Regions from separate parts of the Homo sapiens genome. Here regions 2, 3, 4, 5 and 6 are each linked to region 1. The links come from fine-mapping of genetic effects on gene expression. A gene starts in region 1. Each other region holds a variant in brackets. All regions are shown on one strand. Distances are between the middles of the regions.

Region 1 (4,088 bases):
TGTATCCTGAGTAAGCTTTAATGACAAACTATTTTACTCCAGACTATGGTGAAATCAAATGGTTTCTATTTATTTAACTTGCATATTTCATGTGTTTCCTCAACAGACTTGGTTAAGTACTTGGTGCTAGGTGTTTGGTTAATTCTTGCTAAAATTCCACCAGTATGCTTATTATTACACTCTTTATTCTCCAAAGTCAAAGTCATTAAGTAAAATCATTCTCTCCCGTGAAATTTAACCACTTAACTGGGTGGATACAACCTCAGTGGTATGACCCAGATGCTGTTTTCAAATTTGCAGCATGAGTATATTTTCCAGGCGGGTTTCTAAAAATTTGAGAGTCATTGCTTAAGAGGCTTAGCGTTCCTGTCCTCTGACAGAGGTTGTACTGGGCAGACCCATCTCAGGGCCTGCCAGCTCACACACGTGCTGGAGGGGGGCCTACCTAACCAGGTGTGTTCCAAGGGTAGGCTCTGCTCTTATGACATCCAATCCACAGTCTGGCCAGTCACCTAAGTGAGGCTTGAGGTAAAGAGATGAGTTGATCCAACCAGATTCTTTCTCATGGGAATATGGCTCAAACTCAGAGAGAGACAGGTAGTTAGTAAAAACAAAACAAAACAAAAAACAAATCTAAAAAAAAATGCAGAGAGAGAATCCATAAGAAAATGATGGGTCAGAACCAGCAACACTGTGAAAGCAGAGGCTCTGAATTAGAAAAAACATACAAAGAGTAACAATAAAAGACTCATAGGCAAATAGGGGAGTGGGGAGGCGTGAGAAAAAGTGAATGTGTTATATTAAAGATGTGAGTTTAGGCCCTCAATATCCTGCTGTCAAGGTCCAGTAAGCGGGATCTCTGTCTGGTGAGCCAGGAGAAACTGAGGTTTCAGCTCCAAAGCTTGTGAGACCCTTTTTCCTTTTCCGCTACGCATTTCCACCATACCCTAAATAGAATGGATTCTTGCAACCAAAAGAACTCATTACGACACCTAGGAAATTTTAGGGAGGTGCTAGAGTGTGCCTTCAGCTTTGTCGCAGTGTACTACTCACTGGCCACTTCCACTCTCAACTCTTCCAGTGCTCAAGGGAAGTTTTACATATGCAACACACTGGCCTTAACTTCACAAATGACTGATTTCCATCCCTTTTTTCTCTTCTGCAGAAACATAACACTAATCATGCTCCTAGAATAACTACCAAGATAGCCTTTAGGGGGAAAACGTCACAAGACATGAACGTCTCCCCTGGTAGAAAGAAAGGCTCCTCCCCGAGGTCTCAGAGGCCACACCTGTAGGCAGGAGCACGCTTTTCGATGGCGGAGCCCGGTCCTTGCCTCGCAGCCGCCGGCAAACCACGGTGGCTCCCAGTCCCCGGGGATATTCCGCGTCAGCCCGCACCCCCGGTCCCCGGCCCCTGGCCCCCCGCCCCCGGCCCCCGGTGCCCGCTGGGTCACCTGTAATTGTAGGCGCTGAAACGCTTGCTCTCTCTCAGCATCGCCCGGTACAGAGATAACACTTGTGCGCGACTGGAGGCTGCCATTTTGGAAAGAAAAAAAAATAAACGGGTCCTCTTCGCCGAGGTCCCAAGTACGACCCAACCCACGAAACTCCAGCCTGTGCGGAAACCACGAACGAAATAAAATGCTGCGGCTCGGCTTTGCCAGCGGGCCGGGCCTAAGCCTAAGCGGGCAGCCCTGCGGATCGCGGACGGCGCCAGGCGTCCCGCGCCGCTTCGGGGGCGGGCGCAGGCAGGGCTCGGGGCAGCTAAGGGGGCGGTGCTGGGAGGGAGATGCCTCCGCCCCGCCCCGATCCCGCCCCCGCCCGGAGGCTCGGGACCCAGCAGCCGCTCCACGCGGCGGGAGGGCGGGGAAATAAGAGGACTGGCCGCCCGTGCATCCAGCCAAGCTCCTGGCGGACGGATATCGGAGGCCCAGGCATTCGAGGGACGTGCAGTTGCATCACGGAGAGCCTTTGGGAACCGTCTGGGGTCTTGGCGGAGACATTTGTGTTTCGGGGGCAGCGCCCCTTCCTACATCCAGGAGGCCGCGTTGCCCGGGTTACCGAAGGCCGCCGCACCGACGCCCCGCCCCTGACCGCCGATGCCCCTCCCACGCCGGCTGCGGTCGCCCTCGGCGCTGCCTGAGAGAGTTTGCGGGATTTCAAGGGTGACTTGATTTCGCCTGATCCTGGTCGGCAGGGTGGGGTTTCTTGGCATTCCTCAGGCCGGGGGATGCGACGTCTGGGTGTGGAGGTGATGAGCTAGGGGTTCTGTGGCACTCCGGCTCTGCTCAGGGCGACCTGCGTAGGGGCCTCTGGGGCAGGCCCGCTTTCTGTCAAAATGGCAGCGCCCAGCGTGCGCGGGTATCTCTGAAGTTGGGGTTTAAGATTCTTGCCCGTGAGAGCGAACGAGCCTGCCGTACTTCTGATTTTGAAACACCTGGGTCTGGGCTTCCCGGGCGAGCGGTGGGTGAGTGCCGGCCTCATTGCAGCCTGGGGTACGACGTGGGCGGTTGGTGTTGTAGGGGGTTTACATTGGCCGTGGATTTTTTCCTCTTTCCGGATGTGTTTTTGCTTTTGAGTGAAGAGTTCCCGTGGTTTTGTAACCTAATAAATGCATAAAATGCAGCTTGGGTTGTAGACTTTGGAGAATAATTAGAGACCTTTAGGGCTTTAGGCTTTCTCCAAGAAGCGGAGCAAGTTTTCAACCATGGCTTTCTTCAGAAGACTGCAGCTTTTTTGAATCATCTTATTAAAGTGGTGGATAAAGTTGCTTGTTCTGATCTTTGAGCATGGCACTGGACGCAGGAAGCTTCAGCCAGTCCTAGTTACTGTGTTTGCAAAGCACTTTTCTTGTTTTTGGAATCTTGCTTTATGTAATCAACCTTAGGAAGAACCACACCTTTCTGCACTCAAGCACAGCGAGAAGTACGTTATGCGTGAAAACAAAACAACTTTGCATTAAAATCCATCTTTCTCCGAACCACTTGGTCACGGTTGTGTTCTCATCTGCTTTAGTGTATTTGGTTTTGAAACGATATACCTGCTGTATGTCTAAACAACTTTATATTTTCAGGAACTTTTCTGTTTCCTTTTCTTTTTTTTGAGATGGAGTCTCGCTCTGTCGCCCAGGCTGGAGTGCAGTGGCGGGATCTCGGGCTCACTGCAACCTATGCCTCCCAGGTTCAAGCCATTCTCCTGCCTCAGCCTCCTGAGTGGCTGGGATTACAGGCGCGCGCTACCTCGCCCAGCTAATTTTTGTATTTTTAGTAGAGACAGGGTTTCACCATGTTGGTCAGGCTGGTCTCGAACTCCTGACCTCAGGCAATCCGCCCGCCTCGGCCTCCCAAAATGCTGGGATTACAGGTGTGAGTCATCACGCCCAGCCTCTATTTTCAGGAACTTTAAAGGCAGAAAAAACACTTCTCTGACCTTACCATTCTTTAGTGTACTTGCAACCTGGTGTCCTTGCATCCAGATATTCTTACTAATCCTGATGCAATGACATTTTTTAAAAGGCACTGAAGAGAAAATACTTTTATTAAGATATCTTTAAGTCTCCTCCCTGATTTCTTGAAAATCTCATGTCTGTTATTGTTTATTATTATTTTTTAAACAGGATAGCAAAACTTCTATTACTTCCTGGTTGGTCAGGTCATTGAGCAAATCTAGCCTCTGCTTTATTGAAAGGACTTTTTTGAGTTTTCCCTTTGCTATTTCTTAAAGGATCCAAGACCAAGGCAATTGCACATTGTTATAGAGTAAGATTCAGAGCTGATTTCTCTTGATACACTATTGTGTGCCAGTGATATGAAATGATATGCGGCACCTCAAAGCTACAACATTAATGCAAGTTACTGATAGAGAATGCTATCAGAGTGAAAAGGAAAAACTTGAAGATTATTTTGGCTTTTTTAAAAATAGCAAAGATTACATTATTTTATTATATTTTGCTTTTGAGAGTAAAGTTGGAATAATTACTATATACAATTGTTTCTACCTAATTATCAAGGAATTTAATCATTAACGTACATAATTAATGTATCTAAATTACTCAACTTTGTTGTAATCAAATAAAACTTTTCCAAA
Region 2 (4,088 bases), 130 kb before region 1:
TTACAGCCCCAATACTGTCTAGACTTGTGCTACTCCATTGGACATGTGGCTGTTTAGCACTTGAAATATGGCTGGTCCAAACAGAGATGTTCTATAAAGTATAAAATACAGACTGGGTTTCAAAGACTTAGTAAGAAAAAAAGGAAAATATGTTAATTTTTTTGTATTGCTTAAATGACAATCTTTTAAATATACTGGGTTAAAGAAATTGTTATTAGAATTAATTTTGCCTGTTCTTTTTTGCTTTTTAAAATGTGGCAACTAGACAATTACACATATAGCTTGCATTTATAGCTTACGTGATTTTTCTAATAGACAATGTGATCTGTATCATCCTTTTTTCATTTTTATTTATTTTTAGTGGGTTTTTTAAAACCTGTGATAAAAACAACATTGTTACATTACAATTTACCATTTTTAACCCTTGCTTTTAATTTTGAAATAAATATACATTCACAGGAAGTTGCAAAAAATAGTAGAGAGAGGGTCCCTGTACCCTTCACCCTATTTCCTCCAATGGAGACATCCTGCCGAATTATAGGATAGTATGAAACCCAGAAATTGACATTTACACCATCCTTTACAATTTTTTTGGTGGTAGACAAATCAGCACCTGGACGAGGAAGAGTCTGGGCAGGCAATGGGAGAGGGTGTCTTACAGTTGTTGATTTCTCTATAAAGCAAACTTGGTTCTGCTTGGATTAATAAAAATTAAGTGAAAATCCCAATTTAGGTTTCTTACTGTCTGCAGAGAAATATTTTATAGAAGCTGCCATAGTGAAGAGGACTGCAGTGATGACATTTATATCCTGGAAGCAGGGCACCCATCACCGCTCACACACCCTGCTCCCAGCTGTACACAGGGGTGATATGGAGTTGCAAAATAAGAATGCCCTGTGGCCTCGTAGATACAAATTGCGTCCCTAGCTCACCCCTCACTCAGGAGTAAATGGAACTACTGGGCTTCATAGTGGTGGAGTACATCTCTTTGAAGAAAGTCAAAGTGACAAGGCTGCCTGGCTGACAGATGGCAGATAAAAAGGAGCCACCTTTAACTTCTTCCTCTTCAGGGAAGGAAATCATATCTGGAGATTTCAGTGCCCCTTGAGAGGAAGTGACAGTCACAAATACGTGCATTTGGAGAAGATGCTTCCCTCCTCTTTTCCCTCCTCATAACTATTTTGTGAACATGTCTCTTGAACCCTCTTACTGTTCTTTTGGTTTCCTCTTTGTCCACACTTCGATGTTCCCACAGGACTCTGGATATGAACTACTACATGGGGTATGACCAAGCTCATCAATCTTGCTTTTATTTACATTTTTTTGTGTGAGGCCCCATGTCACCTGCATGACTAGGTGATGCCGCCAGCACCTGGAGGGAGCAGATGCTACCAGCAGAGAAGGGCCTGGGGCTTCTCTTGGGCAGCCAGTGCTTGGGCCTATGCCCTTCAAAGGCTTGACTTTGCCTCTCCAGAGCTTCTGATGTGCTCCTTACATATGCGCTTGCTCAAAAAACTGCTCAATCCCCCAAAGGACTTCTCTCCACGTGTGCACTGTCCCTGAGGGCTTAGAGGCTGCGAGCGGCCACAACCCTGCCTGCACCCCAGCTATGCTTCCAGGCCATCAGTGGCCACTGCACTTGATGGTGTGATCTTCGGACTGCGTCTACCTGCTCCCGCACTCAGCTGGGAATATGGGAAATAGTGGCATTGGGCTCGCGGGCTGCCCTGAGACAACCCAGGTTTCTCCAAAGGATTACCCTGTGTGTTAGCTTCCTAATGCTGCAGTCAAAAATTACCCCCAAACAGGTGGCTTTGAACAACACAAGTTTATTCTCTTACAGTTATGGAGGCCAGAAGTCAAAAATCAGTTTCACTGGGTGAAAGTCAAGGTGTTGTCAGGGCTGGCTTCTTCCCGAGGCTCTGGGGAAAATCTGTTTCCTTGTCTTTTCCAGCTTGTATGGCCTCCTGCGTTGCTTAGCCTGGGGTGCCTGCTTCATCCTCGAAGCAGCCGCTCTGATCTCTGCTTCTGCCACTTTCTCTCTCTGTGCAATCAAACCTCCCTCTGCCTTCCTCTTAGAAGAATAGTTGTGATTACAGTAGGGCCAATGTGGATAACCAAGGCTGATCTCCATCTTAAGGTCCTCATTTGATCATACCTGTGAAGTCCCTTTTGCCATCAAATGTAACATTCACAGGTCTCGGGGATTAGGATGTGGACGCCTTTGGGGGCCATTATTCAGCCTACCAGATCTTCCTTTATGGCTTTGTTGAAAACAATTATTTTTAAAAATGTAATGTATCTTACTGTGGAAAATGTGAAAATGTAGGACCTAGGACCATCCTTACTCCACCAGCCACACTGAAGGGAGGGAGAAGCGAGAGCGCAAAGCAGCCCAACAGGCCAAGTCAGAGAGATTCGTGCTGAGGTGAAGCAGGGGTATGGACGGGTGGGAAGGCAGCTGTGCTGCAGAAGTCTTCATTCAAAGTTGGTAAGTACTTGGAATATGCTTTTCTTA[C/T]AGATTATGTTCTAAATATGGATTAGATTCCCAGCTCTGGCTACAAAAACTAATTAAATCTGAAATCTTTTTCATTAAGAGGTACTAGAGAGAGGAATTCTGGAACTGTGGAGCCCTGAATAGACTATGCTTCCCCTGTTCCCACCCCAGCGCTGGGGGAGACACTGGTGTGAGTGAGGTCTTGGGCCTGGGCGTGGGCTGCAGGGGGAGTTCATGAGAGCTTTCCTCCTGGTGGACCATGCAGGGCCTGGAGGCCAACGCTGGGATTCTGGGATTAGTGGGCCTGGAGGAGACGTGTGAGCCCTGGGAATCTGGCTGTCACTGCCTCCCAAGTGAGCTTTATCTGCCAAGCAGGGGCTAGAGAGCAAGGCTGTTGCTCCCTGTTCGTCAGGCTGGCATTGCACAGGGGACCTGGGAACAGGGAGACTGGCAGCTGCCGCCACTGCTGCCCCACTGGTCCTCCGGAGCAGGGAGCCACTCACGTTTACCACCTGCAGAACTGTAGGCACATGGGGTGCTGTAACAAGCAGACCTGGGCCCCAGTGAGACGACAAAGAAATATTGCCTAAGGGAATCCAGGAGCCAGACAGAAAAACCTGAAACAAATGGCTGCTTCTAAAACTGCTGAGGAGAGGAAGACAACAAGTGGTACACAGCAAGAGCACTCAGAGACTCGGGAAAAACAACTAGTCAGCAATAAACTTCTTTATGAAATTTATGTCTAGGGAAACAGGTCTTGGTGGGAAAAACTGGTATCCTCTTATACATAATAGTAAAAAATATATGCTTCTAATTATAAACATTGGGCTACAGAAGACAGTCATTAAGGGCACAGAAAAGTAGAATGGAATTTCCAAACTGACAAAAGAGAGATAAACAGGGAATGAATAGTCACTTGATAAAAACCATTAAAAATAAGGAAAAGAGAGAACCAACTAAAATACATAATAACATAAGACAGAATAAAATCAACTCCATCAGCCATAATATGAAATGTGAATGGACTAACTGGGAAAGGTAACAAAACAAGATGAAAACCCTTTAAACAAAAGTGGTAAAGGAAGACTGAAAATCAAGGGATGAGTTAAGATATACCGGGTATATATGCGGGGGAAAATTCTAGTTTATATTAATATTTGACAAGGCAGAATTGAGTCTAAAACCTTCAAACTAAATAATGAGCAACATTTACAGACAGGATGCGGCAGTCATAAAGCTGTAAGCACTAAATAAGACTGTAGCGAAGTATATAAAACCTGAATTATTAGAAATAAAAGGAGAAACTGACAAAGGCAAAATGATGGTGGGGAGCTTTGATATTCCTCTTAAAAAGGTAATCACAGAGAATTTGAATAATACAATGGACAAACTAAATACACACACATGTATCTCAGAGAATACATGAAAAAAATTTGTGTCTGGCTGGGTGCAATGGCTCACGCCTGTAATCCCAGCAGTTTGGGAGGTAAAGGCAGGAGGATCACTTGAGGCCAGGAGTTTGAGACCAACTTGGCCAACATAGCAACACCTCATCTCTTAAAAGAGAAAAAAGAAAATTGTGCCTGCAAAA
Region 3 (4,088 bases), 23 kb before region 1:
AATCCCAGCTACTCGGGAGGCTGAGGCAGGAGAATTGCTTGAACCCAGGAGGCAGAGGTTGTGGTGAGCTGAAACAGCACCACTGCACTCCAGCCTGGGCGACAGAGTGAGACTCCATCTAAAAAAAAAGGAAAAAAAAAAAGTGTTAGATAAAATTTTCTGAAACCAAAGTTTTCATTTTTGGTACATGTTAAGTGGCTCCTAACTCAAACTAACCCTACAGACTTACAGTTTATAAATTATTTGAAGATCTCATCTGAATATTATTTTGTTTAAAAGAGATGGTCTGTTATAATAATCCCTCTAAAAAAATCTCTAAGGGGGCCAAGCGCAGTAGCTCACATCTGTAATCCCAGCATTTTGGGAGGCCAAGGCGGGAGGATTGCTTGAGCCCAGGAGTTCAAGACCAGCCTGAGCAACACAGTGAGACCCTGTCTCTAAAAAAAAAAAAAAAAAATTAAAAATTAGCTGGGTGTGGTGCTGCATGCCTGTAGCCCCAGCTATTTGGGAGCCTGAGGTGGGTGGATCACTTGAGCCCAGGAGGTCGAGGTTGCAGTGGGCTGTGATTATGCCACTGCATTCCAGCCAGAGTGACAGTGAGACCCTGTCTCTTAAAAAGACAATCTCTAAGGAACAGAACAGAAGGGCTTTGAATTGCAGTGGGTTCAAAGTTCTTAGGGGTCTTTGACTCTGTCCGTGGGAAATCCCTCAAGGTAAAGAATTGGCTTTCTACTCAGTCTAGAGCTTGTATGGGAGTGTAACTTCACATCCACTGGTGTTTAAAACAGGGGTCCCCAAACCCTTGTCTGTGGCCTATCAGGAACTGGGCTGCACAGCAGCAGATGAGCGAAGCTTCATCTGTATTTATAGCCACTCCCCATCGCTCACAATACCACCTGAGCTCCACCTCCTGTCAGATCAGTGGTGGCATTAGATTCTCATAGGAGCACAAACCCTATTGTGAACTGCGCATGCGAAGGATCTAGGTTGTGCACTCCCTATGAGAATCTAACGCCTGAAGATCTGTCCCTGTCTCCCATCATCCCCAGAGGGACCCATCTAGTTGCAGGAAAACAAGCTCAGCGCTCCCACTGATTCTATATTATGGTGAGTTTCATAATTATTTCATTATATAGTACAATGTAATAAACAGAAATAAGTACACAATAAATGTAATGTGCTTGAATTATCCTGAAACCATCCCCCACAACCCCAGTCCGTGGAATAATTGTCTTCCATGAAACCAGTCCCTGGTGCCAAAAAGGTTGGGGACCACTGGTTTAAAATGTATGAAAAGTTGGGGTGAACTGAGCACTACTTATGAAGGATTGCCTAAAAGACAAGCCCTGTATCTACTCTTCTAGATATGCTAAGCTGTGTCTGTTGGATGTGCCAAGGACCTGCAATTTTGGTTACCTGCAAAATGCTTTCCTACTGTGGCCTTGTGCTACCAGCCAACGTGACAGGATGCCAGAAGCACAGGCCCTTTGAAACTGTTGTACTTATGCTGAGGATGCTGCCCTTCATTGAAAGAGCATAAGAGAATGTCTTCCGCTTTAGCACCAGAAAGAGTTACAATTCTTCTAAGAAAGTGGCTGCTTCGGTATCACAGACACTCTGACTCACATTACTAATCATGGTCCTCTCCCTGCATAGGCTGCTGGGAAGCTCAGAACCAGACCTGAGGCCGTGCTCCTGGCTGCTTACTGTCCTGCCTTCTAACCACCCTTTTGCTTGGAAACCTCATCCCAGGACTTATTTTGGTTTTCCTATTCTTATTTTCCTGATTTTTCTTACTTAACACACCCACAAACAATTCTGATCTGTGGTTAAAA[A/G]TATATCGAAATTCAGAATAAAATTAAATGCAACTTGTTTTCAAATAAACTATGGGAGTATAAACTATATACTGAGAGACATGATAGGGTTCTAAAATTTCTTACTGAGAATTTGGAACAACAATGTTAAATGATGGTAAGGTTCACAGGGCAGTCCAAGTAAATTTAATTTAACCATGCTGCAGCAAAATGACAGTGTTAAGAGAAGTCACTCCCAGCGTAATTCTATACTCATGTTAAAAAAGAAATTCTTATTAGAGGATTTGTGTTTAAAGAGACATCATTGATTATCTGAATTTGTATAGGCACTGGATATATTAAGTCAACTAACAAATCATAAGCATTTAAATAGGAGTAAGTCCAGGGGCCTTGTAAATAACCCATAGTTTATTCAGTCAGTTGACTTGTTCTTTTTTCCTTACATAAACAAGTAACAGGGTGATTTAATTCAGTGAGAGTGGTGAAGTGAATACAGATCTGTGAAGAACAATAAAATGTTAATTTTATGATCCTGTTTATTTTGCTGAAGTTTCTACATGATAGGAAACAAATGCAAATTTTGACCCAGGGTCAGTCCTTACTATTTCCAGCAGCAGAAAATGAATCTACTAGGATACCTGAATTTTATAAGCAAATCCAACCTATTTCATATAAACATAATAAGGTCTTGGACACAGTTATTCATAGTCCGAGACTATTAACTGGGCTCTCATTCAGCATTTATGCATTTGAAATCTACCTAGTCAAATTTTCTTGACAAAATGTTAGCCTCTAAAGGAAGAATTCTGCTTCTGATAACCCATTATGCTACTTTTACACGCATGTGTTAAGCAAGCAGCAGAATCAGATTTGGAATTTAGAAAGATATTCTTTCCGGTGGCAATAGGCAGGATGCCTGGCAGAGCAAAGAACAGGAGGTAGATAGACCCGGAGGGGGCTGTACAAAATGCAGACAGAAACTGATGAACCAACAAAAAGCAATCAACTCGTGAGACATAAAGAAGGTCCGGCAAGGGAAATAAGTGAGAGAACCTGCTGGGCATAAGGACCTACTGACTACGGTAAAGTAAGGGGAGAAAGTGAAGTGACTTCCAGCTTGCACAAGGAAATACTGGGATGATGAGAGGCAATGCTGGAGTGTTGAGTTTGCCTGAAGGATTAGGTTGGGGATGGGTTAGGGATGATGTGGAGTTTTAGTTTAGATACGAGGTGTTGGTAGCATAACCAGAAAATGCCCAGGAGGCCCCTGGAAAGGACAAATGGAGGGGAATCACTAGAGCACACAAGGTTGGAGCCATGAGTTGTGGGCATCTAGGGAGGGTGTGGGAAGGTCAAGATGGAGTGCAAGGGGCCTCCAATGTCAAGCGGAGCCAAGAGAGGAGCAGACAAGGAGAAGGTGGTGTCCCGCACGCTAGGGAAGGAAGAAAGAAGCTGGAGACTGGTTAATTGGGCCAAAGATACAATGAAGGAAAGTGACAAGAAGGAAGGTGGCAGGCCAGACTGCAGCAGAGTGAGGAGTGAGGGCAGCTGACAGCCGGGAGAGTGCACAGACCATTCCCACCAGCTGCAGGCTGTCAGGGTATCACTGACTTCCTAATCGGCACAGGCCACATTGGTCTTTTCCCAAGGCTCTTCCAGACCTGCAGAATCTGGGTTTCTGCTCTATGAGGGTCCCTGAGCATAGGCCCTTAAAAACATTCTCACCACCCCCATAGGGAACAGTACCTGGCCATGGCGCAGAACAAGTGCATGAGAGGACAGAGAGAGAAGGGAAGCTGATGCCCCCGGCAGGGATGCTCATGCTGCCTGCCGCAGCCAATCAGGTGGAACCCAGGGCCTGTGGTCTAGGATCTTTCCTTCCATTAAGGTAAACAGGGCAAAATAAGACTCAAAACACCACAGGCTTCGAAGACATCACCTTTCAGTACTCCACCTAGCTCTGCCAAACCTAGCCTCAGCTGTATCCTATTGCTGAAAACTCTCCTTACAGTACATCCAACCTTTCCAGGCCTTCTCTACGTCTGCTTGTTCCCTGACTCACTCTGGTAAAATCTCACCTCCTATCTTTCCTTTCTCTTCATTTTTTCTGCCATCCATTATTACTACTCTGCAGAAGTATTTACATTAACACTACTCCCCCTCCTCTGCTGACACTTTGGAATATGGCATGTACCCAAGTTAATTTATTTTCAATGTATAAAACTGTACCCTTTGTGATAATATTACCTTAGGATACTCAAACACAATACAAAA
Region 4 (4,088 bases), 150 kb before region 1:
GACTGCCTCATTGCGTAAAACCTGGGGGAGTGGGAGAAGTCTCCTCTGGAGCTGTTATCTTGCCGGCAATTTGATGCCTTCAGCACGGAGGTTCAAATCTGGACTTCGGTTCCAAGTAGCAGTTGCTTAAATTAAGTATAAATCAGCAGTGCCGTGCGTTAGTAGCGTGGTTGGATGCATTCACTGCTGAGTGACCACGAACTCCACTGCACTGATGCAAGGTGGAAAACCTGAGCCAGAGCCACACACAGGGCTGGGCTGGGCGGCTCTGCCCCGTGACAGTCAGCTGAAGGGAGTGATTATACTTGCCACATCACCTCCGTTCACTGTCCACCGAACAGCTCTCCCCCAATTAGGGCTTTGCATATGCTCTAACACTGCAGCTCCCAGGCAGGAACTGGTTAGAGGGTAAGAGATCTGGGACTTGCTAAGAGCTTCATTATTTTCACAGATGCTCAGGACTTTATCCTGAAATTGGCAGGGGGTGGTGGTTCATGCCTGTAATACCAGCACTTTGGGGGGCCGAGGAGTTCAAGACCAGCCTGGCCAACATAGTGAAACCCCGTCTCTATTAAAAATACAAAAAATTAGCTGGGCGTGGTGGCAGGCCCCTGTAATCCCAGCTACTCGGGAGGCTGAGGCAGGAGAATGGCTTGAACCCAGGAGGTGGAGGTTGCAGTGAGCCAAGATCGCACCGCTGCACTCCAGCCTGGGTGACAGAGCGAGACTCCATCTCAAAAAAAAAGACTTTATCCTGAAATCAAAAGTTGTACTGCCAAATAGAATGGCTACACGTTACATCTATTTGAACGCATCATTGCAGCAAATCTATGCTCTCTAAAAGCGACTGGAAGACATGAGTTCTCATATGAGGGTGAGAAGAACACGGGCTCAGACAGTGCGTACTCACTCCCATGACCGTCGGAGTTAAAATGAGGGGGTGACAGTGCTGCAGCTATTCCAGGACCGGTGCTATTTATAGGAGCCTGTTCCAAACCTTAACCCACAGATACCAAATCCACTGAGCACTGTATGCAAAGGGAAACAAGAAACCGCTCTGCCAGGTCTGGTCCCTCGTAAACTCCCCAGATGACAAGCAAGTTATTTAATATGTTCTTTCTATGTTTGGAATGAATCTGTTTCCAAGAATAAAAGCATACAAACAATATCTTTATTACCTGTAATATACTTAAAGAGCAGGGGTCCCCAGTTGGTTAAACATTGAAAACAGTGGGAGAGCTTCAGAATAGAGAAAAATGACTGTGCCTCACCCCTCACTTACTGAGTCAGAATCTGCAGAGAGGGAAGTGCTGAGAGATGTCTTTTTAAAAAGCTCTCCAACTCTCCAGGTGCTTCTGTCCACCAGCCAGATTTGGGCACCGGTGCTGCCCAGCATGCCCCAGGCTTCAGGGTATGGGAGTCGCCCTGGGCTTGGGTCAGGCTGGGGCTCTCTCATTCACCAGGTGTGGGGAGGGGCTTGAGCCTGCATTTCCAGCAAATTCCCAGGTGGGGCTGAGGTTGCTGATCTGCAGTGCTCCATCTCTGGGTGTGTACCTACACACCCGTCACCTTTGTTGTACTGGGCTCAGGTATAAGTTGCAGGGTGCACCGTGTATCCCCGTAGCCCTGCCCTACTCCATGCTGCCCCCAGTCTCAAGTGGTGCTTGAACTTGCCTTCACCAAGGCAGTTCTCGTCTCAGAGTTGAACCCTCCCTGAGGGCCCCCAACAGCCCTCTCCAGGCCTTGTATCAGTAGGAAATGAAAATGCATTAATTGGGAGGGGTTTATCTGGGGTCAAAGGCTCAGGGAGATCATTCTTTTTATTGCCAAGGACCAAGAAACAAAGTGTAGAAATGCTATACACAATGGTCATGAGCTACAAGGTAGGAATGGGGTGCAGGGGAGACGTGGTAACACACAGCACTATTCTGAACGAACTCCAGCTCTCCATTCTAACACTTGAACCAAGGAAAGACAGCAGTCCTTTTTCACTAAGCCTGCAACAGAATGCAAATGTGACTTGGTTTATCAGCTCCCACAGGACAGGCAGCGCAAAAGGCTATTGTAAGCTGGTTTTGGGAGCCCCCA[T/G]CTCAAACAGAGAGTGGATGCTGAAGGTGGTCCCTGGCCGCCACTGGTGGCTGGTCCCCGGCTTGCTAGGTCCTGGGCATGTCTCGATTCTCAATGATCAGCTTGTCAGTTGAATACAGTTGGCCAATGTGGACCTGAAGGCAAAGAAAGGACACAGGTCAGGAACCGTGGCCCTCTAGCCCCTGGGAAAGGCCAGAAGGAACATTTCCTAACATTTCTAATACAAACGTCGGCCATCCCAGGGCTGCTCCCTTCCGGCAACTGCACTGCGGGGCAAAGCCGGCCACTAGAGCACCATCCAACCCCCGTTTCCCTCACTGTGAGAAGTTACAGAGATCCACACACCCATTCCTCCCCTCTGAAACAGCACAGGAGGCTGCAGCCTGGGACTCGGGGCTGTGCTGAGCTGGGTGACGCCTGCCTGCTGGTGGCAGAGCTGTCAGATGTGTGCCCAGTACCTCCTCTCCTAAGAGGGCTTCCTTCCCTTAGAACTGATTCTCGCATAGGGAAGGGGTTTTAGAACAGTGCAGAAATGGGCGCCGTCTATGCTGGGGTAGGAAAAGCGCTGCATTCAGGGCAATGCAGACACCTGTCCGTGGCCCATCCCGGGTGGGGTCGAGGGCAGTTGTCTGAGTGCCTGCACCTCCTGCCTTCTATCTTTCCTGCCCCCTTCTTTTTAAAGTGTCCTTTTTATTAAGTGTCTTAATGCCCAATGTTTCCACTGTCCCAGGTGGATGCTGGAGCCATCCTCTGGGGCTAGAGCAGGTCTTTCCTCTGCAACAAAGGGTCTTGCCACAGTTTTTCTGTAAAGCATTTCCTGAGTGATACATTTTTAAGAACAAGTGGAATGGGTGAAGGAAGGGCTGATCATTAGCAACTCTATCTGGATTTCAGACCAGTTGGTCACTATCTATGGGTAATTCGGGGTGAGTAACTGCTGTTTAAGCAAACAGAGCAGCCAGGGGTCAACATCCTCATGGTTTTCCTCCCCGATCTTAGTGCTCTATTTCGAAGTGAAGGCCCCGGACAGAAGGCGATCATGTCATTACTACAGCATGTGTTAAAGAGCAGTGCTCTGTCACCAAGGACCGCCGCGCCGTCCATCTGAGGTGTCCTGTTTTCCATGCCATTTGCTCGGTCTTCAGTCTGCCCTTGCACAGAGGTATCTTGAAGGTCCGTGGCATGGATAATAACTAAGTGTTGCGGTGCAAGAGAAAGCGAAGGAAGAGGCGAGAGCAGCACGTCATCTAAGAAGAACGAGAAGTAGACAGTGGAGATATGGGGGATGGGGGGATCTTGCAGGTATTTTTAAATGCAAGTGAATGTCCTAATTAAAAACCAAAAGAGGTAGGTAGGAGTTATGGGAAGGGGGTGTAGAGAATGAGTGCTCCTAACAAGTCACAGTGATGAGCTTTGCTACTGTGTCTTCAGTCGTCCTTTCCTCTCATTAATATAGAGAAGACTTTGGACGCAAGTGGATGGGGAGGGTCTGGGGTGCTGCGTTTCTCGCAACCTGCAGGTAATGCTGATGCTGCTGGTCCACGGGCCACACTTTAGGTGGCAAGGTCGGAAATCATCTTGAGGGCTGTGAGGAGCCGCACTGGTTTTCTCAGGGGCTACGGTACAGTCACGATGAATGCAGCACAGGGACTTTCTGGCCTTCCCTTCTGGACAACCTGAAATAGCTGCTGGGTGAGCTGAAGCCATCTATACCCTACTACAGAGAAGGGGAGGATTGGCATTGTCCTCCACCCTGAATAGTACATGGTTTTGTTTTCATATATTAACCTCAACAGATAGATGAACCCACTATCAAATGATATTGAGAAAAGAAAGGCTAGAATACCAATGATCCTTAAAAAAAAGGGAACCATTACTTTTTGGATAATTAAAACTAGGCTAATACAAACAGTTTTGTATAACAGCTGGGATGGTTCAGCTACCTGGGAGCTTGTTCTGTATTTAATTGATCTCAGGGGATTCACCAGGAACCTGTCCTA
Region 5 (4,088 bases), 170 kb before region 1:
TGGGCCCTTTTAGTCGCTGGACTGCCAGCGCAGGGGATGGGGGATGGGAAAGTGGCTTTCTGTTCCTCTCAGAGCCACAGTGGGGAGTGGTGACTTGATGGAAGAGGAGGCATGCCCAGCGAGTCAGTGCTGCGCAGACGCAGATGGCCACCTCTGCAGGCCCGTTGGGTGGGGTATGGACGGCCTTGGTCGCTGTGCTGGCTGTGGATGCCAGGATGATGTGGCCCTCTGTGCATGGGTGGGCAGGAGGGCATCCCGAGTAAGGTCTGTCGCCCCTTGACTCTGCCTCAGTGATTTCCCTTTTTTTAAGTCTTCCCATTTTCCAGCACATGGCGAGTACAGTCAGTCGTTTTAGGGATGGTAGTCTCTAAGGAGGGACAGTTTCACTGTTGCTTGATAGAACAGGGCTGGGCATACGTACATTTGGCCCATGGGCCAAATTTGGCACACAGCTTATTCTTGTAGGGCCTGTGACCTAAGAATAGTTTTTACATTTTTATTTTTAATTTAATTTTCTTATTATTATTTTTCGAGACGGAGTTTCACTCTTGTCGCCCAGGCTGGAGTGCAATGTGCGATCTTGGCTCATTGCAACCTCCGCCTCCCAGGTTCAAGCGATTCTCCTGCCTCAGCCTCCAGAGTAGTTGGGAGTACAGGCATCTGCCACCACACCTGGCTAATTTTTGTATTTTTGGTAGAGACAGGGTTTCACCATGTTGGCCAGGCTAGTCTTGAACTCCTGACCTCAGGTGATCCACCCGCCTTGGCCTCCCAAAGTGCTAGGATTATAGGCGTGAGCCACCTCACCTGGCCTTACATTTTTAAATTGTTGAAAAAAATTCAAAAGAAAGTACTATTTGGTGGCACGTGAGAATTATATAAAATATATATTTCAGTGTTCACAAATCAGGTTTTACTGGAACACAGCCGTGCACACTCATTTCTGTCTTCTCTGTGCTGCTTCCATGCTACCGCAGCAGAGTGGAGTAGACACAGCAGAGACCAGATGGCAAAGTGTAAAATATTTACTATCTGGCCCTTTTACAAAAGGCTGGCCAACCCCTGCTCTAGGGAAGTAGTGTTTTTTAAACACAATATGCTGACAATTATAGTTAATAAAGCATTTAGACTTTAGTGAGCTTTTGCCACTTGAAATAAACCCCCTTTGGGTAAAGGTAAAGCTTTATATGACTCTCAGTAATCTTGTTTAGAATAAACACGAAAATGTGAAAAGTGCGGTTATCATTGTGTCAGGCAGGGGAATCTACCTGTTGCCTTCTTTCACCTAAAAAAATAGTAACACATCAGTGCAACTGAAACATAGCACCCGTTTGAATTGGCTTCAAACTACAAAGCTGCCAGATATTTCTCTGTGCTTCAAAATGTGGCATCTTACACAATGGAAGTATTTAGTTTGAACTTTGGGTTGGAGATATCCCTTTGACTATGGCAGTGTTTCCCAAAGTAAACTGATCATAGGAAAAAAATAATTTATTGACAGCAAGCCATCAGGAGTTAACATATTACAATTTAGACTTTTAAAAATGGTCAATGGTCATATCAATGAACTAATGAATACTTAATTCATATATGCTTATAAAAACTTTGACGAAAAATAAATGATAAAATGAAACAATTTTTCTGTTACTAAATATAAAAGCTATGAAGCCTTCTGATGCATCATCAGGTAATCTTGGTCTGATATACCATTTCTTAAAAGTACATTATTGCATAACCATATTTTTCCGATATATTTATAAATACATTAATTTTTAAGATATTGACAGTATACATATGCTATAACATTGTTTGAAAATGCTTGTTTGTGGGGCAATAAAGCAACATTTTGAATTGTTTTGAATTACTTAAAATTAAATGAGGAGCCCAATATAATGATTCAAACAGAGATCTTTGTGTCTAGTATCCTTTAAAATGGTAACCCATTAAATCTGGACTCAAACAAGAGAAATAGATTTTTAGTGGTATGTACAGAAGACTTTCTATTCTGTCATAACACCATTACTGATTTTCAAAACTATATTTTAAAGTTCAAATGATTCATTTTAAAAGAAACTATTTCATAATATAATGAGCATCCAGTATGGCTGCTAGGAAAGGAAACCTAGTTTTGCTCTCCTCCCAGTCTCAGAGACTAGTGCGTCAAATGTTCATAATTTGGTAAAATATTTTAAACAGCCCAGTATTTCACCAATGTGTGTAGCCTTTCCAAAGCATTAGCACTGGCAATCTTTTGAATGTCCATTTTGTTTTATAAAAGTGCCAACTTCTCATTGTAGACTAATAGCAAACATTATGCAGTGAAATGTAAAGGTAATAAAAATAGGTTTTCTTTGTTTTTGAAAAGTTATTTCAAAGGAAAGGGCAATACGACCAGAGTGAGGAAGTATTTAAGAGTGTATTTCCTGAAAGGAAGACACACACACACACACACACACACACCACACACACACCACAAACAAAATCCCTGCAATGCAGTCAGTGCTTTTTTGCAGCAATATTTGCTTCAACTTGAGTAAGTGAA[G/A]GTCATTCTCCTTAAAAATGCAATAACTTTAACACGTTACCTAGCACTAGTGATAAAAACTAAGTTCTCAGCTGAGTTAATGACCCTGTCCTCCACCAGAGAGGGAGTCTAGTTTCTTCCTTATTGGCAAGTGTGTCCATGGATCACTGGGTGAGGGAATGTTGGATGAAATGTGTCCCTATCTAGAGCTTCAGAAACATGGGCTGGGAATGTGGCAGTTTGTATGAAACAATATTCTCCCCGGGAAGCTTCCGGTTTATGAAGCAAGGTGGTCAGCCAGTTCCAAGACTTAACTAGGGAGGGTAGGATCCTGCTCCAGGAAGTGTACGGTGGACTCTGGAAACCCACTGAGCTCTGGAGACACTGGAAGTCTCTGTCCAGGGCAGCAAGAGCCACGGCTCAGGCAGCCTTTCAGGAGCAACTGGGAATGGGGGTAGTTGCTGTTATCCACAAACCTCAGCTGTAGGGGCAGGGGATTTTCTCCTCTCAGGTGTGCGGTGGGCTTTCCATTCTGACCGTCCCCTCATGCAGTGTCCTTTCTTCTGCCTTGACCGAGGGGTGAGGGCTTCCCTGGAATGCTGTGGCTCTTGAGCCTGTCCACAAGGAGGCCGCCCACAGCCTTCCTGCTCAGTTCATTTTAGGAGCATTAGTGTCGGATTCTTCATACGTCATTTCACAGGTTTCCATATTTCAGCTTTCTAGCACAACGGTTTCTATTTTAGTAGGCTAAGATCTTTCATTCCCCTACTCAGTTCTGTGTTTCTTTGGAGCACTGTGGCTTGGAGCCTTGTGGGGCAGAGTGATTGGTGCCATGTGTTCTTTATCAGGAGTGTAAGGAACAGCCCTAGAGAGGAAATGTGATTTCTTTTTTTTTATTAATGGCATCATGGAACTGAATCAAACTTGCATTTTTGGTTCACACAATAGGACCCAGGTTTGTAGATTAAAAGAATATGCTGTGACTTGTGGAAACTCAACTGGCAACACGGATTATTTGCAGTCCAGCGTTTGTCCAGCCAGTCCCCAAGATGCCAGGACCCGATGGACTCCTGGAATCAGGGATGTGCTGCCTGAAGTCACTAAGGCAAGGGGCTGGGAACAGCTGACAATCCGGGCTCATTGCAGTGTCCCGGCCTCCCCTCCTACAGAGTGGTCCTGGCTGTCTTGAGTGTAAGTGGGCAGGTGCTTGGAAACCTGGGACACACTGTTTTTTGCTTCCAGACCACAAAATAGACACCTTCCACCTTGTGAACTGTTGTGTTCCTCTTTGGACTCCCTTTAGCTGATCAGGGAGGTGACATCAGAACGCAGCGGTCACTGATCCTTAAATCCTTCAAGGTCTGATTGTCAGAGTGCTAAATACCGTAACTTCAGGCGCATTCAGATTTCAACTCTTTTGAATCTTTTTGGTAGACATTGCATTTGCTTTTTGTGAAGTTTAGTTCTTTGACTTTGGTTAACTGTGAACAGGAAACTTTTGGAAAGAACAGAGGCACATGTCAGCTAAATGAAGATGTTTGAGATGGCAAAGATCAAGGGCTTCCTT
Region 6 (4,088 bases), 130 kb before region 1:
GTACCTTCATAACTGTACAATCATCAACACTATTTAGTTCTGGAAATTTTCATCACCCCCAAAAGGAAACCCCATACTCATTAAGCAGCCCCTCCCTGTTTTCTTATTTTCCCAGCCTCTGGCAACCACTAATCTATGTTCTGTTTCTATGGGTTTCCGTAGACATGCAGATGAAATCATATAATATGTGGCTTTTGTGTCAGGCTTCTTTCATTTACCGCAGTGTTTTCAAGGTTCATCCAGGTTGTAAACACGCATGAGTACTTTGTGACTTCTAAGGATGAATAATATTCCATTGCGTGGAAATACCACATATTGTTGACCCTTTCCTCAGCTGAAGGATATTTGGGTTGTTTCCATCTTTTGGCTATTGAAAATAGTGCTGCTGTGAACATACGAATACAAGACTGTGTCTGAACCTGTTTCCATTCTTTTGGAGTGAAATTGCTGGGTCATATGGTAATTCTATGTTTAACTTATTGAGGAAGTGACAAGCTGCTTTCCACACATGTCAGGATTTTACAAGCTTCCCAGGTGAGTGTAATGTCTGGCCAAGGCTAAGAACCTAGTTGGTTAAGATAGAGCTTTCAGTTTTTATGTAAGATAAGCAAGAAAACCAAGATAAAATCAGCAAAATCCAGACAAAAGAACTGACTTCTTCAGCAAATAAATTATAAGGAAAAAGAAGAGCAAGGAAGAAAAAAAGATACAGATGGGGCCTATAGATTTCTTTTAAAGACAGATTACAGACAGATCACCCAGTTTGAAGATTGGTGATATTTGTGAGACATTAAAATTTAAACACTTTGTATTTGATGATATTAAGGAATTAGCATTATTTTGTTAGTTATGATAACGGTATCATAGCTATGTTTTAAAAAGAATCATCTTTTCAGATATGTACCAAAATAGTTTAATATGAAAACGAATACACAGTTTCTCAAAACAATACGGGAGAGCATGGGTAGGCGTAAGGATGAAAAATACCATCTATTGATATTACAGAGTATCTAACTCTTAAAGATGGGTGATGGATACACAGGACTCATTTGACAATTCTACATACTTTTGTATATTTTCACATTTTTCCATAATAACAGGTTAAACAGCAAAAAGTCTTCGTCATTGCAACTAACAAATTGGGGAAAATGTCATCAAATGTCTATTTAAGAGATCTCATCCCTATTCCTTCTCCTTCCTCTCCCTTGGTAACGGCACTCCTAGGGCTGTGGAGGGTGCGGTTCACTCCTGGGACTGTGGAGGGTGCGGATCACTCCCGGGACTGTGGAGGGTGCGGATCGCTCCCGGGGCTGTGGAGGGTGCGGATCGCTCCCGGGGCTGTGGAGGGTGCGGATCGCTCCCGGGGCTGTGGAGGGTGCGGATCGCTCCCGGGACTGTGGAGGGTGCGGTTCACTCCCGGGACTGTGGAGGGTGCGGATCGCTCCCGGGACTGTGGAGGGTGCGGATCGCTCCCGGGGCTGTGGAGGGTGCGGTTCTCTCCCGGGGCTGTGGAGGGTGCGGTTCACTCCCGGGGCTGTGGAGGGTGCGGTTCACTCCCGGGGCTGTGGAGGGTGCGGTTCACTCCCGGGACTGTGGAGGGTGCGGATCGCTCCTGGGGCTGTGGAGGGTGCGGTTCACTCCCGGGACTGTGGAGGGTGCGGATCGCTCCCGGGACTGTGGAGGGTGCGGATCGCTCCCGGGGCTGTGGAGGGTGCGGTTCTCTCCCGGGGCTGTGGAGGGTGCGGTTCACTCCCGGGGCTGTGGAGGGTGCGGTTCACTCCCGGGACTGTGGAGGGTGCGGATCGCTCCTGGGGCTGTGGAGGGTGCGGTTCACTCCCGGGACTGTGGAGGGTGCGGATCGCTCCTGGGGCTGTGGAGGGTGCGGATCGCTCCAGGTGTGATTTTCATGGGAATGGAACTGGCTCCCTAGGTGGTGTTCATTTCCTCTGGATGCCTCAGGCCTGTCTCCTCCAAAGACGAGAACTTTCTTTTAAGTTTTCCTGCTAAATATACTCAAAAAAGCTTTCTAGCTCTAGACTTTCAAACACACACAATACTGATGTGTATGTGTGTGTGTTAAATACACAAAACACAACATTTATCATTTTATTCATTTTAAGTGTACAGCTCTGTGGCATTAAGTACATTCACATTGTTGTACAACCATCAACAGCATCCTTCTCCAGAATCTTTTCATTTTCCTCCACTGAAACCCTGTAGCCATTAAACACTAACTCTCCATTCTCCCTCCCCTCCAGTCCTTGGCAACCGCAATTCTACTTTCCGTCTGTAGGGGGACTCTAGGGACC[G/C]CCGTAAGTGGAATCATACAGCATTTGTTTCTTCTATGGCTTATTTCACTTAGGACAATGTCGTCAAGGTTCACCCTTGCTGTGGCGTGTGGCGGAATTTCCTTCCTCTTTAGGGCTGAGTAACATTCCATTGTACGGCTGTACCACATTTTGTTCATCCAGGCGTCTGTTGAGGGACACTGGGTTGCTGTTGTGAATAATACTGCTCTGAACACTGGTGGGCAAGTATCCTTTTGAGTCCCTGCTTTCAGTTCTCTGGGGTATATACTGAGAAATGGAATCACTAGATCATTTGGTCATTCTATTCAATACTTTTAAAACCAAATCAGTATTCTTCTAAATGATAACTTGTCCCCTTTCCTGCTGCCTTTTTGACTGGGGCTGGGTTGAGGGTGGAGAAGCGGGAAGACACGATAATGTAGTACTTAAGAGCCTGGGGTTTGTCCCAAGACAAACCTGGTTTAAACACCTGCTCTGCCAATCACTGGCTCCGAAACCTTGGGTTTCACCTAACCCTGTAGTCTCAGTTTCCTTACCTACAGAATGGGATAATGTCAATTTTACATAAGTTAGATGGTATTTATAATGTCTTACTACAATGCCTGGCACACAGCTTTCAATTAATGGCTTCTAGTAATCGATTACTTCCATTTCAACAATCCCAGGTGTTGTCAAAGAAGGTGGCATTTACAAATGAGTCCCACAGGTCCTAGCCACAGTCTGTGGTAATGACATGCTAAACCGCCCCAAGGAGCAGCGCCTGTAGGAAGACTGGGTAGACTTCCTTCCTTTCCTGTGGCAGAGGGCTCCGCACAGAAGAAACTCTGGTCTCTTCCTGATGTCTCTTAACAGCTTTATGGAGATATAATTCATACACCATCAAATCTATCCAATTAAAGTGTACAATTCAATGGTTTTTAGTATATTCACAGTTGTGCATCCATTACCACAATCAATTTTAGAGCATTTTCATTACCCCCAAGGAAACACTACTCATTAGTCGCCTTTCAAATGTCCCATCCTCTCTAGCCCCTGGCAACCGCTAACCCACTTTCTGTCTCGATGCATTTGCCTATTTTGGCCATTTCACAGAAACGAAATCACACAATGCGTGACTTTTTGTGTCTGGCTTCTTTCCCGTAGCATAATGTTCTCAAGGGCCATCCGTGTTCTAGCATGTATCAGTACTTGGTTCCGTTTTACCACCAATAATATTTTTATTGTATGGCTATACCACATGTTGCTCATCCATTTATTATCTGATGGCCATCTGGGTTGTTTCCACTTTTTGGCTATTGCTAATAAGGTTTCAATAAATATTTGCATATAAGTCTTTGTGTGGACACGTTTTCATTTCTCTTGAGTATACATGTAGGGGTGGGATTGCTGGATCACACTACCTCTTCTTTTTAAGCCCCAACATAGAATGGTTGCTTCTAGGACCTGTCAAGAGATTCTCAGACAAGCAAAAACCAAGCTCCTGGAGTTGGCCCCACTCCTCCACTTAGTGAGAAGCTTACAAAGGTGTTCAGATTTGTACTCTGTAATCTCACTGCATTGATACTGAACATCTTCTTTGAGCTCAGTTCCTCCTCACAGAGGAACTCTAGTGTCCTTTAAATAATGACTCTGCTACCCGGCTAGTGATATGCCTCTATCTGTATTTAAGATCATTTCCCCTGAATGATGGAGATTTTAATATTCTGCATCTAATGTCCTGTGACTCTATCTGAATAATTAAAACCACCCAGTTGATTGTTGCCCTATTCTCAAAGACAG

Evidence for each region. PIP is the estimated chance that this variant, and not a neighbour inherited with it, causes the effect.
Region 2: its variant is fine-mapped to the expression of LYRM4 in whole blood (INTERVAL, PIP 0.95).
Region 3: its variant is fine-mapped to the expression of LYRM4 in whole blood (TOPMed, PIP above 0.99).
Region 4: its variant is fine-mapped to the expression of LYRM4 in whole blood (TOPMed, PIP above 0.99).
Region 5: its variant is fine-mapped to the expression of LYRM4 in visceral fat (GTEx, PIP above 0.99).
Region 6: its variant is fine-mapped to the expression of LYRM4 in whole blood (TOPMed, PIP above 0.99). The same link has a PIP of 0.9 or more in monocytes and monocytes after LPS.

What each region holds. Positions count from the first base shown.
Region 1 is chr6:5,259,192-5,263,279 of GRCh38, forward strand. LYRM4 (LYR motif containing 4) reads right to left here and starts at 1,759. Exons shown (of 3, transcript NM_020408.6): 1 at 1,457-1,759. The coding sequence starts at 1,542. It overlaps FARS2 (phenylalanyl-tRNA synthetase 2, mitochondrial), which reads left to right and starts at 2,322. Exons shown (of 7, transcript NM_006567.5): 1 at 2,322-2,469. RefSeq lists an enhancer at 990-1,039 and silencers at 1,250-1,559, 1,620-1,839.
Region 2 is chr6:5,127,480-5,131,567 of GRCh38, forward strand. All of the region lies in intron 2 of LYRM4 (LYR motif containing 4), which reads right to left. All of the region lies in intron 3 of LYRM4-AS1 (LYRM4 antisense RNA 1), which reads left to right. Among named protein-coding and RNA genes, the nearest start is that of MIR3691, 19 kb to the right of the region's middle. RefSeq lists an enhancer at 2,357-2,943. The variant C/T (reference allele first, on the strand shown) is at 2,519.
Region 3 is chr6:5,236,344-5,240,431 of GRCh38, forward strand. The region is part of intron 1 of LYRM4 (LYR motif containing 4); the gene reads right to left. It overlaps LYRM4-AS1 (LYRM4 antisense RNA 1), which reads left to right. Exons shown (of 4, transcript NR_126015.1): 4 at 1,365-4,088. LOC124901249 (a long non-coding RNA gene) reads right to left here. Exons shown (of 2, transcript XR_007059423.1): 2 at 2,208-4,088. Among named protein-coding and RNA genes, the nearest start is that of LYRM4, 23 kb to the right of the region's middle. The variant A/G (reference allele first, on the strand shown) is at 1,836.
Region 4 is chr6:5,107,270-5,111,357 of GRCh38, forward strand. It overlaps LYRM4 (LYR motif containing 4), which reads right to left. Exons shown (of 3, transcript NM_020408.6): 3 at 1,150-2,222. The coding sequence ends at 2,154. All of the region lies in intron 3 of LYRM4-AS1 (LYRM4 antisense RNA 1), which reads left to right. Among named protein-coding and RNA genes, the nearest start is that of PPP1R3G, 24 kb to the left of the region's middle. The variant T/G (reference allele first, on the strand shown) is at 2,089.
Region 5 is chr6:5,087,582-5,091,669 of GRCh38, forward strand. PPP1R3G (protein phosphatase 1 regulatory subunit 3G) reads left to right here. Exons shown (of 1, transcript NM_001145115.3): 1 at 1-1,906. The region is part of intron 3 of LYRM4-AS1 (LYRM4 antisense RNA 1); the gene reads left to right. It also overlaps a transcript of LYRM4 not described here. Among named protein-coding and RNA genes, the nearest start is that of PPP1R3G, 4.3 kb to the left of the region's middle. The variant G/A (reference allele first, on the strand shown) is at 2,543.
Region 6 is chr6:5,133,673-5,137,760 of GRCh38, forward strand. The region is part of intron 2 of LYRM4 (LYR motif containing 4); the gene reads right to left. All of the region lies in intron 3 of LYRM4-AS1 (LYRM4 antisense RNA 1), which reads left to right. Among named protein-coding and RNA genes, the nearest start is that of MIR3691, 13 kb to the right of the region's middle. The variant G/C (reference allele first, on the strand shown) is at 2,310.